Homo sapiens: one gene and its partners. The protein of the gene in region 1 purifies or fractionates together with the protein of each later gene. This does not show direct contact. Each region holds a gene or a part of one and is shown on either strand. Other genes may lie near its edges.

The links. Proteins that work in one complex are often made in the same cells at the same time.
Region 2: the proteins of PTPRZ1 (region 1) and SPECC1L purify together in Homo sapiens (affinity purification with mass spectrometry; one large-scale study listed by BioGRID and IntAct). This does not show direct contact.
Region 3: the proteins of PTPRZ1 (region 1) and VEGFA purify together in Homo sapiens (affinity purification with western blotting; one study listed by BioGRID). This does not show direct contact.

The regions. Positions count from the first base shown.
Region 1 is NC_000007.14:121,875,109-121,880,337, forward strand, and holds part of PTPRZ1 (receptor-type tyrosine-protein phosphatase zeta isoform 1 precursor), read left to right. Parts: intron 1-5,229. UniProt on the Homo sapiens protein: Protein tyrosine phosphatase that negatively regulates oligodendrocyte precursor proliferation in the embryonic spinal cord. Required for normal differentiation of the precursor cells into mature, fully myelinating oligodendrocytes.
Region 2 is NC_000022.11:24,276,358-24,280,950, forward strand, and holds part of SPECC1L (cytospin-A), read left to right. Parts: intron 1-342; 5' UTR 343-446; intron 447-4,593. UniProt on the Homo sapiens protein: Involved in cytokinesis and spindle organization. May play a role in actin cytoskeleton organization and microtubule stabilization and hence required for proper cell adhesion and migration.
Region 3 is NC_000006.12:43,782,626-43,787,107, forward strand, and holds the end of VEGFA (vascular endothelial growth factor A, long form), read left to right. Parts: intron 1-1,915; coding exon 1,916-1,937; coding exon of another isoform or gene 1,938-2,003; 3' UTR 2,004-3,862; downstream 3,863-4,482.

The DNA.
Region 1 (5,229 bases):
TTAATATATTCGTGAAGTTGTGCAGCCATCACCACTAATTCCAGAATGTTTTAATGACCCCAAAAAGAAACCCCATGTTCCTTAGCAGCCATTCCCCATTCTCCATGACCCCAGCTCCTAGCAACCACTAATCTACTTTCTGTCTCTATAAATTTGCCTATCCTGGACATTTCATATAAATAGAATCATGCAACTTGTGGCCTTTTCTGTCTGTCTTTGTTCACTTGGCATAATGTTTTCAGTTTCATCCATGTTATAGTATGTATAAGTACTTCATTCCTTTTTGTGGCTGAGTAATATTCCATTATGCCAATATACTAAATATATCACATTTGCAAAGGTTTTTCTCTGTAAAGCATTATTTGTAGCCTATTTTTGGTTGTATAGTTTTCAGTTTGTTGGACATTTTCTTTAAGTCTTTGGTGATGTAAAATTTAAGTGTAAAGAATTTAATTAACTTTTAAAGACTATCACAAGCTTATGTAATGCTACTGAATGTAAGCTTGCATTGGAACTCCAAGTGAGTTTTGTTGAGACTGGAAGGTGACTACTTTTGTATTCCTCACCATTTTAACAAAGTTGGCCTTTTACACAGTTGCCAACAGGCTGACCTGGAGGCATTGGCAACATCAAGTAACATAAATATCTTGATCTTGGGGCAGCATGTTTTGAAAAAGTGAGGCACATTATCTTCAAATGAAAAAGTTAGGCTCCATTTCAATTATTTTTCACTCAGCACCTACTTCAGTGTTTGTGGATGCGTTTACCCCTCATCTTCAGTGTTCTTAGAGCCAATGAGGTAGCCTGACATATGTATTAAGTGCTCAGTAAGGGTCTGTCAACTGACTAAAACTTGCTGTACAGGAGAAGAGCTCAATACAATTTGAACATTAGGCTGTCATTCTTACCATTATCCAGGAACAAGTTGTAGAGTTCACTAAGATATTGATTATTGGCAATTAAGAATGTCTTAGTGATCAGATCAGATCATTTTGTATCTAAAATGTCCTGATGTTTTGAACTGGACATAATAGACCAACTGCTTCTTTCAAATAACTTTCCAGACAAAAAATTTATCAGAATACATGAACCAAAACAAATTTTTCTTGACCCACTGAACAGGTGTATCTTATGGGAAAAACTACAGTGGCTTTCCTGTAAGGAGGCTTAACTATGAGTCATAGAGGAGAGGTAGATATTTTAAGAGCTTTTAAGGAATAATTTCTTCCAATTAATGAAGGAATTCAGGATCTTTGAATTAAGTGAATTATAGTGCTGCAAGGTACACTAAGTTCAAATGTTTAAGTATTATTATTAAATATGTAATGAATCAGATTCTGTACTTCTCAGTCACATCTTACTGCTTTAAGAGCCACATTAACAATAAATTATACCCAACTCCTCTGGAAGAATTAACTTCTTAATTTATGCTGGTTATAGAGTCTGAAATTCAATATGTTGTGACTCTCAGTTTGATCTATTTATCCTCTGAAAACAAATTGTAACCACATATAAAAAATATTCATGCCTTTTTCCCAAATAATAACTAGCCTCTATTCAGAAAATTAATTCCTTTTCATTGCAGAGTTGCAATTTTCTTTATTTCATTTCTCTCTCCTTTTTACGTATACTGTGGTTGCTTCCAGTCAGGGAAGTTTGCCAGGAGAAATCATTTCATTGATGAATTCATTTCTACTCTCATGTCTGCACTAGAGATTCAAGATCTTGCTTAAAATTTTATGTTGTGGGAATTTTGCTTCTGGCAAAAATTCAGGTTTTTCTGGAAGCATAAGCTGCGTTTTCTCATTCCCTTTAACTCCGAAAAGATTTGAGTACTGTCTAAAGTGAGAGATTTGCTTGACCACCCATTTGCTGACCGTTCAGACTGTTGCATGGAAATGGAACCCCCTCAGTCAGGACCAGAAGATCTCAAAGGAAGGCATAATTAAGAAGATGAGCCTGTGTTTCATTTTCAGTTACCATCTGCTCAAGTGTCTACTAGGTGCAGTTTCAGCACTGAGCATTTTATGTACATTTTCTCATTTCATTCTCCTCAAAACCCTTTGATATTGGTGTTTTCATCTTACACCTTTTACAAATGAGGGAACCCGGCACAGAGAACTCAGATAAGTTGCCTAACATCACAAATCCTGATTCAGCCTGTGTATTCCTTCCCAATCCAGAGCCTGAGGCTTTTCCTCTTTTCATTCCCAGGATCAATTTGCTGTTTGGCATTCACTAGCTTGCTTTCATGTGATGTGATGGTACATTTCACAGTCCCATTTGCTTTTCTGAGGATCCCTTTCATGATTTTGCCCATGTACTCTTGTATTACTTTTTTATCCTTTTTTGAAAATTAAGGCATAATTTACATTTTTACCATCTTGAAAGTTTTCACCGATGCATATGGTCATGTAGCAATCACTGTGATCCAGATACAGAATCGTTCCAGCCATGCTACTTTAACTACTCATTCACTAGATGTTCACTAAGTGCCCGACATCTGCAAGGCACCATGCTAGGCGCTGATAATTCAGCTATGCATCAACATACAGAGACTTAAACTCATGATGCTCACAACCCAGTTAATCTGATTCAATCCCACAATGAAAACTTTCTTTAAATCTTGTTTTAAAGATACTTTTTCTGTTCACAACTAGTCGAAAATAAGTCTTTTCCAAATATCTCTTAATGTGTTGAATATGTTAACTCTCAAATACTTTAAAATGCTTCCTGCTCCATTAAGAATTCCAATGGTAAAAGTCAGAGCCAATTTAAACAAGAGAGAGATATGTGTGTATATACATATATAAATGTATATATATGCATATACATAAAAGTGTATATATATATATGTGTTTGTGTATATATATATAAAATATATACATTTAAATTGTATTTCAACTTTTAGTGTCTTATTGAGATTAATTCCTAGAAGTAACTTCAGATTACAAAAGGAAACCAATTTTTCTCTGTGTTTAAAGAAATTAAAGAAATTAAAGAAAGAAAAAATATCATATAGCACAATCTTAAAACACTTGTATTTTAGAAATGTCCTGTTTAATACCATAGCCACTAGGCAGATGTAGCTATGTAATTTAAAATTTATTAAAATAAAACAATTCAGTTCCCTAATCACACCATCCACATTTCAAGTGCTCAGTAATCTGTGTGGCTAGTGGCAATCACATGGGACAGTGCAGACATGGAACATCTCCATCTGGCAGTGTTGTTTTGGAACAACAACAAAAAACGCTGGTAAAATAATGATTGATAGAACTCATGAGGAGTCATCAACTCAACTAGAAAAATTTCTAAAGTCATTGAAATTGTTTGAAGTGTTCGTGCATGTGAGTTAGTTATGGTTTGTGTTGTGTTAGCCTGCAAACATCCTAGAAACATGATGGGGCCTTTGGTAGAGCAGTAATAGGTGAAAAGAGTTCAGTGGCCACTTTGTAGCCTTTATGGACTGAGGTTGAACAGAAGAGATTAACTGCTGGTTCGGGAGTGAGTGCTCTGCTCCCATAGTACATTTTCCATAATTTGTTCTGTTATCCACTGTATTGTTTTTCAATTTATCTGTCTCCTTGACTCGACCACATTATTTGAGGGTAAAGAATCCATTCTTACATTCATCATTCATTCATTGTTAAATTCATTCATTGAAGAATTCAATGAAAAATTCAGTCAACATTGCATTCTTGAACTTAGCACTTACAGTAGGTGCCAATAAATCTTTAATGTATAAGGTTATAGAAAGATTGTACCATGAAGCTTCTTAGAAAAAAAAATAGTTGTTTGTTGTTGAGACTGGCCAATTTTCACTGGTCTTTCCCTCTTTTGATTATGATCTCAGTCCGGGAGTAAGGTCAGCATTCACCTTGACCTGTCCATCTTTAATGTCACTTCTGGTACGCGAACTTCACTTTCACTGATTCTCCCAGAAATACACGTAAGCATATAGGCATCCTCTATGAGGTTGGAGCTGTCATGAATGTGATTAATGCCTGTACAAGCATTACATAGATCCAGACACTATCTGTGCATGGAAAATAAAGTTCCTGTGATTGATACTGAGTGTGTACTTACAGAAGCAGTCTTGAGTGAGCTTTTAATTCTAGAGGAGTTGGCACCAATGAGTTTTGGATACATCCCAGGGGGCCAGAACATCAAGTCAGCTAGTGTGCCACTTTGTATGTGTACAAGTGCATGCGCCTGTGCTGCTCTGGTGTTGGGGAGGAGAGGGCAATGAGGGATGCAGGATGGTCAGTAATGAGTAAATAAAGTATCTTGAGCCCATGAACACTGTATTTTCAGTCAGCCAAAAGCTATCATATTGGTTTAAGTCTTCTCTAGTCAAGAAGGCCGTAAGAGATAGTGACACAAAACAGTTTTGAAAACCAGGCAAATGATGGGAAGTGCAGTTTTATCATGTGGATGTACGTGCTTTTGGAGTTTGTCAATAGTTTTATCATTAATCCTAGAGAGGATGTGCTACACAAGTTTAACTCTGCACATAGCAAATATTTGAACTGAGTTGAATTCAAATGGAATGGGACATGGGATCAGTTAAAAATCTTCATAGGAGTCAAAAGCAGAAAAAAAGGAGATGATCTTTTGTTAGGATATTTGCTTTATTTTCTTCTCAACTACCTTCCTCCCTTCCTTTTTTCTTTCCCTCCTTCCTTCTATTTTTCCTTCCTTCCCCTTTCCTCCCTTCTTCCCTCCCTTCCTCCTTTTATCCTTCATTCCTTTAATCCTTCCTTCTTTTCTTTTTCTTTTTTTGTTGCTATTTCCTCTTCAGCTTCACTTTCTTTTAGCATGAGTTTAAGATAATTAAATAAACTTAAGTTTGCTCAGCACCTTGATGAAAAGTTTGATAGGGAAGAGATTAATGCTATTTGAAACCATTAGTTAAAAATATTTTTACTGTGTTAATATCATTTGGGGGTCTTTGTAGTTAACAAAATTTTTAAAGTATGAGTTGGCAGATGTTTTTGCCTAAATATTCCAGTGTGGTAAAATGGGCTGATTGTCTTTGTTTTCCCCTTCTGATATTTGCCCACAGATATTAAAGTAAACTCAGTTATTTTGGGTACTGGTTAATGTGAAGTTTTTGGCCTTATTCAATAAGTACAAGTCAATTTATGTGCATGCTAACAGGGGATAGTTTTTTTTACAAGTTTCCTTGGAAATGTAGTACTTGGGTACTTGGAAATAATTTATTCA
Region 2 (4,593 bases), on another chromosome or scaffold:
GGTGTTTGAGGCTGCAGTGAGCTAGGGATCACACCACTGTTCTCCAGCCTGGGCTACGAAGCGAGACTCTGTCTCTAAAGAAAAACATACTGGTGGCATTGTCAAGATTTGTCAAGAAATAGCCATTATGCTGGACCCAGTGGTGCGCACCTGTAGTGCCAGCTTTTCAGGAGGCTGAAGTGGGAGAATCTCTTGAGCCTAGGAGTTTGAGTTCAGCTTGGGCAGCATTGCAAGAGCCCAGTCTCAAAAATATTAGGTCAATAAGGTTTATTTTAATTAAACAAGAAAAAGAAATATCTGCTAAAATTTAAAGCTATTCTATTCTTCCTCTCTCTCTTCTAGTGTTCTTGGGGAAGATCCCGACTAAGCCATTTTCCAGTGGCACCTCTTCCATCATGAGTTCCTGAGGCAGTCCGATGGGGCTACTTTATTCCAGAACAATCACAGTGAGACCTTTTCTCCCAATAAATGCCCCTTTTCTCTCCTTAATATATTCTCTTGCTTACAAAACACTGGTGTCTCCTTATCATGGTTTGGTTCTACCCCACTGGGCCCAAGAATTCTTGCCCAGGAGCAACTGAATTTTCTTCTTGCTTGCTTTTTAAAACTTTGGTGGGGTAGAGCCAATTTTAAATCTTCTGATCCATTTTTTCATTGTTTTTCTCGCCCTTCTGCATTTTCTGCAAATTCTGTTGAATCATTGCAGTTACTTAGGTTTGCTTCGTCTCCCCCATTACAAACTACTTACTGGGTTTTTCAACCCTAGTTCCCTCATTTTTATGATTTATGCTCATTTCTTTGTACACTTCGTCTTGCTCCATCTCCCAACTCATGGCCCCTGGCTTTGGATTATTGTTTTGGTCTTTTATTTTTTGTCTTCTTCTACCTCAACACTTATCTTCCTCTCCCAGTCTCCGGTACCCTATCACCAAGGTTGTCATTAACCTTTCATATTATTCCTCATTATCCATGTATTCATTTGCAAATAAGCGTATATTAACAAAATCACAGGTTTATGGAGATATAATTCACATACCTTAAAATTCAGGCTTTTAAAGTGTACCTTTCATGTGGTTTTTGGTATATTCACAAAGTTATGCATTGATCACCACCATCTGATTCCATAACATGTTCAATACCTCAAAAAGAAGTCTGTACTCATTAGTAGTCATTTCACATTCACCACTCCCTCTGGCTCTGGGCAGTCACTGATCTTTGTGTCTCTATGGATTTGCCTAGTCTAGGTATTTTTATGTAAATGGCATCATACAACATGTGACCTTTTGTTTGGCTTTTTTCATTTAGCAAAATGTTATCAAGGTCTGTCCCTGTTGTAGCATGTATTAGCACTTCATTTCTTATATGCTGAATGATATACTTTATTTGTCCATCAGTTGTTCATGCTTTATTTGTCCATCAGTTGATGAACATTTGCGTTTTTGCCACTTTGGGCTATTAAGAATAATGCTACTGTGAACAAGTGTGTACAAGTTCCTCTACAAATTTTTGTGTGGACATATCCTTTCAGTTCTCTCAGGTGTATATCTGGGAATTGAATTGCTGGGTCGTGTAGTAGCTATGTTAAACACTTTGAGAAACTGCTATAATGTTCTCCAGAGCTGTACCATTTTAAATTCTGTGTATGAGGATTCCACGTTCTCCACTTCCTCACCAGTGTATGGATTTGGGGGTATACTTTTTAAAAAGTGGGATTAGGCTGGGCACAGTGGCTCACACCTGTAATCCCAACACTTCAGGAAGCTGAGGTGGGAGGATCACTTGAGCCTAGTAGTTTGAGACCAGCCTGGGCAACATAGGGAGACCCTGTCTCTACAAAAAATAATTTAAAATAAATTAGCTGGGCGTTGTGGCACACACCTGTAGTCCCAGCTACATGGGAGGCTGAGGTGGAAGGATTCCCTGAGCCCAGAAGTTTGAGGTTGCAGTGAGCCATGATGGCAGCACTATACTGTAGCCTGGGTGTCAGAGCAAGACTCCGTTTCAGGGAAGAAAAAAAAAAGTGGGATGATATTTTTGACACTTTTCTTCTTGTTTTCTTAATTTCATACTTCTGGAAATTCCATTAAATTAGCTGGTACCACTCTAACTCATTGTGTTTCATGGCTGCATAGTAATATTGCATAATATAAATATACCATTCATTCATCAAAGTTAGCAGATATTGACTGTTAGGTGCCAGGCACTGCTCTAAGCGTTAAAGAAAAACACACAAAAACTTTTGCATTCTTAGAGTTTATTTTCCAATGGAGGGGGTGGAGGGAGGTAAGAATTTAGGAAATAAATTAATTACATATATAGCATAGGGTTTCACCAGTGAGTGCAGCTTGAATCGTTGGCAGCTTTCTTAGTAGTATAAATACAGTACTAAAGATGAAATTACTCTAAATGGTGTTACTTAAATTACTGGAATAGGTATTACTATTAGTCACTTTGCAGGTGAAAGTGGAAACACCATCGTAAAATGTAAAATAGGAAACAGCTGGTTAATGTGGATCTGGAGTTTTTCTAGGACATAAACTGATGAGCCAGAAAAGTAAATGTGTCAGTCCTTGGTAGCACAGTTTGTACGTTTATAAATTTTATCCAAATCCTCTTAATCTAGTGATTAATAGACACTCTTCACAAAAGGATGAGGGAGGTATATGTATATGTGTTGAAAGGTTCCGAAGGATGCAACCGAGAGTACTTCGGGGGACGTGGCAAAACTTCCAGGCCCATTCAAGAGTCTTGTTTTCTCCCTGAGCTTTTATGTATTTATTATATTGCCCTATTAATTATTGAGATTGTGCCTTACAGTAAAAGCTGCTTTAAATTGTTGACGCTATAATTTAAAATAATCTGGGTCACCTAGAGTGGTTAAACCTGGAAGAAAAGGATATCCTTCCTGCCAGGGCAGATTGTATGTAGATATGCAACCTGGTTGCGCCTGTGCTGACCTCTACTCTGTTGGGCCTGGAAGTATGCAGTTCAACGTTTCTCTTCTGATTTTTAAAAAAAATTTGACTTTGTTTACTTTTTATTTTATTTTAATTTAGAGACAAGGTTTCACTATTTTGCACAGGCTGGTCTCAAATTCCTGGGCTCAAGTGATCCCCTTGCCTCGGCCTCCCAAATACTGGGATTACAGGCATGAGCCACTGCACCTGGCCTTAACTTTGAAATGAAGTTAGAAATGTACATTTTATTTTTTTAATTATTATTATTATTATTTATTATTTTAGAAACAGGTCTAGCTCTGTTGCCCAGGTTGTAGGGCAACAATGGTGCAATCACAGCTCACTGCAGCCTCCACCTCCTGGGCTCAAGTGATTTTCATGCCTCAGCCTTCCGAGTAGCTGGGATTACAGGCATGTGCCACCATGCCCGGCTAATTTTTTGTATTTTTAGTAGAGACCAGGTTTCACCATGTTGCTCAGGCTGGTCTTCTGACCTCAAGTGATCTGCCCGCCTCAGCCTCCCAAAGTGCTGGGATTATAGGCGTGAGACACCACGCCCAGGTGAACAGAATAGTTTTCCATTCACCACAGTTTGTGACAGTCTCTACATTGTGAAGTGACAAGTTCTCTTCTATTTTCCTTCTGCCCCTCATCACCTTTTTCTTCCTCATTTCTTTTTTGAATTTTGCTGTCTTGAATTGATGTCTAAAGGATGACATAGCAGACAAGGGGACTGACACATGAACTCTCATGAGTTACTGAGGAGTTTCTCAGTGCTCTGTCTGCATCATCTGCTCACTCTCTCCTTCCTAGGTGCTAGCCTGCCAACCTGCTTTGAGAAATTGGAAATGAATTGGGGGGTAATCAGCCTCCCCTTGTACATGTAGGGACCGCATCTCCAATGCCTTGCTTTACATAATGACGAATGGTGTTTTGCTTACCTACTTCCACACAAACTGCTGATATGGTTAGGATTTGGGAAAGGGGAAGAAGGGAATTTTGGGTTTTGAGGAGTAGCTGGGGCTTGAACAAAGAAGAGGTAGTAATGAACATTCCTGGGGTGAGGCAATTAGTTAGCTGAGGGAGAAGAAGGCATATAATAAATTAGGGATTGACAGACTGTCTGTAAAGGGCCAGACAGTAAATGTTTTAGTCATTGAAGACCTTAAGGTCTCTGTTGCATCTAATCAACTCCATCATTGTAGTGCAAAAGTAACCACAGCCACTACAGATGTGAATGAATGTGACTATGTTTCAATAACATTTTTTTTTTTTTTTTTTTTGAGACAGTGTCACTCTGTTGCTCAGGCTGGAGGGCAGCAGTATGACCACAGCTTATTACAGCCCTGACTTCCCAGGCTCAAGTGATCCTCCCACCTCAGCCTTCCAGGTAGCTGGGACTATAGGCATTTGCCACCGCCCCCCATTAGTTTTTGTATTTTTTTGTAGAGGCGGCGTTTCACCATGTTGGCCAGGCTGGTCTTGAACTCCTGAACTTCTGGGCTCACGCTCTCCACCCTACTCGGCCACCGAAAGTGTTGGGATTACAGGCATGAGCCAGTGTCCAGCCCAAAATAGTCTTTTGATTTTTTTTCCCCCAACCATTTAAAAATGCAAAACATTCTTAGTTTTTGGG
Region 3 (4,482 bases), on another chromosome or scaffold:
GGGTTGTGTCTCCCCACTCAGACTGAGGTTCCCTGAGGGTAGGGCTGTGTCTCTCCCCTCCGACCTGGGCTCCCTGATAGGGCTGTCTCCCCGCTCAGACTGAGGCTCCCTCAGGCCAGGGCTATGTCTCCCTCCTCAGACTGGGGCTCTGAGGGCAAGGGGTCTGGCTGTTCGTTTAGGATGGGGCACTTTTGCCTACACACTGAAGGAGCTGTAGCATCCAAGAATACTAGATACCTTTAATCCTCCACCAGTCATGGTGACAACCCCAAGCAGCCCACACATTTTCAAGTGCCCCCAGGATGCGTGGAGGGAGGGGTCTGTGCCCATTCTCCTGACATTAGCCTGTGAGCTCCGTAAGCCCGGGCCTCGTTTACGTACCTTTGTGAGCCCCGGGCATCTGTACCTCTTTCCTTTGCCCATACTGGGGACCAAGGAAGTGTCAAGTGCATGAGTGAATGTGTGACTCAGTTCAGAGGGTGAGGTCAGGAGCACAGGGTCGGGACAGGTGGCTGGCATCTTTTAATGCCTTAGCTTATGTTCTTTATACCAACTTGGCCTGTGCTCAGAGTGAGGGAGGCCCTGGGGGTCAGGGTAAGCGTCAGTCAGGGAGGCAAGACTTTGTGGGGATTTCCTAGACAGGGCCAAGGCACCCCCAGCTCACCCCGAGGCTGTGTTAGGGAAGTCCTTGGAGTGTCTCCCCTCCCCCAGCAATGTTCTTGTGGCTTGTGTGTGCTCAGGGGATGCTGGGAACCAGGCCTGGGTAGTTGGTGTGGGGTGCTGTCTGTCTTGGCCCTATGTGAAACCAAGAGGGCGTATATTAGTGCTGGGGTGGGGGCTCTGCCTAACTTCAGGGCTGGATGAGGGGAGTCTCAGTTCCCCAGGGGTCCTTGGGAAAGATAAGGGACTTGACATTTTAGGGTTTTTAGGTGATTATTCTGCTGATGGGGGTTTGTGTGAAGTGACCTGGGAGCTAACTGAAGTTACTCTAACCTCCCAATACCTTTACCCAACCCCCAAGCTGGCTGTATCTGGGAATATCAGTTTCCAAAATTGGAGGCTTAGGACTCCGTTTCGGGGCTCCCCAGAAGGGTAGGGCCTGTTCTGCCTCCTTCTCACAATCACCCAGGGGCAGGGGCATGCTGAGAAAGTTCTTGGAGGCCCCCTTTGCTTCAGCTGGAGTAGTGAAGCCGCCGAATTGTCTCTCCCCATCCTAAGTGAAGCAGCATATTTGAAAGGAAAGACAACCTGTTACCTGGGCCTGCAACCTCCAGGCAGCTCAAGAGAGATGAGGCCTACAGCCACAGTGGGAGGGGACATGGGGAATGGAGATGGTCCCTCACCTTCCTGGGGCCTCCTGCTCTACGCTACCCCCTCGGGAGCCTCCTGTCCCCAGGGCAGGCCCTTGCCATTGTTGGTCACCCGGCCAAGCCTCTCTGCCTCAGGCGTTCTCCCAGAAGATCTGCCCACTCTCTTCCCCACACCAGCCCCTAGAGACTGAACTGAAAACCCTCCTCAGCAGGGAGCCTCTTCTGATTAACTTCATCCAGCTCTGGTCACCCATCAGCTCTTAAAATGTCAAGTGGGGACTGTTCTTTGGTATCCGTTCATTTGTTGCTTTGTAAAGTGTTCCCATGTCCTTGTCTTGTCTCAAGTAGATTGCAAGCTCAGGAGGGTAGACTGGGAGCCCCTGAGTGGAGCTGCTGCTCAGGCCGGGGCTCCCTGAGGGCAGGGCTGGGGCTGTTCTCATACTGGGGCTTTCTGCCCCAGGACCACACCTTCCTGTCCTCTCTGCTCTTATGGTGCCGGAGGCTGCAGTGACCCAGGGGCCCCCAGGAATGGGGAGGCCGCCTGCCTCATCGCCAGGCCTCCTCACTTGGCCCTAACCCCAGCCTTTGTTTTCCATTTCCCTCAGATGTGACAAGCCGAGGCGGTGAGCCGGGCAGGAGGAAGGAGCCTCCCTCAGGGTTTCGGGAACCAGATCTCTCACCAGGAAAGACTGATACAGAACGATCGATACAGAAACCACGCTGCCGCCACCACACCATCACCATCGACAGAACAGTCCTTAATCCAGAAACCTGAAATGAAGGAAGAGGAGACTCTGCGCAGAGCACTTTGGGTCCGGAGGGCGAGACTCCGGCGGAAGCATTCCCGGGCGGGTGACCCAGCACGGTCCCTCTTGGAATTGGATTCGCCATTTTATTTTTCTTGCTGCTAAATCACCGAGCCCGGAAGATTAGAGAGTTTTATTTCTGGGATTCCTGTAGACACACCCACCCACATACATACATTTATATATATATATATTATATATATATAAAAATAAATATCTCTATTTTATATATATAAAATATATATATTCTTTTTTTAAATTAACAGTGCTAATGTTATTGGTGTCTTCACTGGATGTATTTGACTGCTGTGGACTTGAGTTGGGAGGGGAATGTTCCCACTCAGATCCTGACAGGGAAGAGGAGGAGATGAGAGACTCTGGCATGATCTTTTTTTTGTCCCACTTGGTGGGGCCAGGGTCCTCTCCCCTGCCCAGGAATGTGCAAGGCCAGGGCATGGGGGCAAATATGACCCAGTTTTGGGAACACCGACAAACCCAGCCCTGGCGCTGAGCCTCTCTACCCCAGGTCAGACGGACAGAAAGACAGATCACAGGTACAGGGATGAGGACACCGGCTCTGACCAGGAGTTTGGGGAGCTTCAGGACATTGCTGTGCTTTGGGGATTCCCTCCACATGCTGCACGCGCATCTCGCCCCCAGGGGCACTGCCTGGAAGATTCAGGAGCCTGGGCGGCCTTCGCTTACTCTCACCTGCTTCTGAGTTGCCCAGGAGACCACTGGCAGATGTCCCGGCGAAGAGAAGAGACACATTGTTGGAAGAAGCAGCCCATGACAGCTCCCCTTCCTGGGACTCGCCCTCATCCTCTTCCTGCTCCCCTTCCTGGGGTGCAGCCTAAAAGGACCTATGTCCTCACACCATTGAAACCACTAGTTCTGTCCCCCCAGGAGACCTGGTTGTGTGTGTGTGAGTGGTTGACCTTCCTCCATCCCCTGGTCCTTCCCTTCCCTTCCCGAGGCACAGAGAGACAGGGCAGGATCCACGTGCCCATTGTGGAGGCAGAGAAAAGAGAAAGTGTTTTATATACGGTACTTATTTAATATCCCTTTTTAATTAGAAATTAAAACAGTTAATTTAATTAAAGAGTAGGGTTTTTTTTCAGTATTCTTGGTTAATATTTAATTTCAACTATTTATGAGATGTATCTTTTGCTCTCTCTTGCTCTCTTATTTGTACCGGTTTTTGTATATAAAATTCATGTTTCCAATCTCTCTCTCCCTGATCGGTGACAGTCACTAGCTTATCTTGAACAGATATTTAATTTTGCTAACACTCAGCTCTGCCCTCCCCGATCCCCTGGCTCCCCAGCACACATTCCTTTGAAATAAGGTTTCAATATACATCTACATACTATATATATATTTGGCAACTTGTATTTGTGTGTATATATATATATATATGTTTATGTATATATGTGATTCTGATAAAATAGACATTGCTATTCTGTTTTTTATATGTAAAAACAAAACAAGAAAAAATAGAGAATTCTACATACTAAATCTCTCTCCTTTTTTAATTTTAATATTTGTTATCATTTATTTATTGGTGCTACTGTTTATCCGTAATAATTGTGGGGAAAAGATATTAACATCACGTCTTTGTCTCTAGTGCAGTTTTTCGAGATATTCCGTAGTACATATTTATTTTTAAACAACGACAAAGAAATACAGATATATCTTAAAAAAAAAAAAGCATTTTGTATTAAAGAATTTAATTCTGATCTCAAAGCTCCTCTTGGTTTCTCCTTCTCCATTGAATCCTTGCTCTAGACTTCCTCCCGCCCCCTTTCCCTCTTCCTCTGGGGAACATGGCATTTGTCTTGGGTCTGGGAAAGGTACGTCTAATGTGTAGGATATGGGGTGACCCACCTTGTTGTGCTGGGGGCAAAGTCCTTCCATTTTGGCTGAGCTGGTCCTGGGGGAACCCATCCATCCTGTCTTGATATAGAAGGTGGGAAGCTCTGGGAATGGGTGGAGGGGGAGAAACAGCTTAGGAGCCAAGGGCCCTTGCAATTGGTAGTGCTGCCTTCAGGAATTAGATGATCCAGGCCCCTGTCCCTTAGCCAGGGAAAGAACTGGCCATGTCTCCAAGCTTGCTGCCCAGGAGACAGGAGAGAGCTGTTTTTGTCTGTGGGGGTCTTGTTGGCTGCAACAGGCTGGGAGTGGGAGGGGGATGCTGCTGGAGGGCTGTGACTCCAGGGTGTAACTTAATTTTACATAGTTTTACACCCTGGAGTTCCTTGAGCCTCTGGAAGATGGACCCATAGGTTTGGTCACCACTGATGGGACACTCCCTGCCCCAGCTTGCCATAAGCTCTTCTCTCACGTCCTGCTCCTGGGTAAGGTGG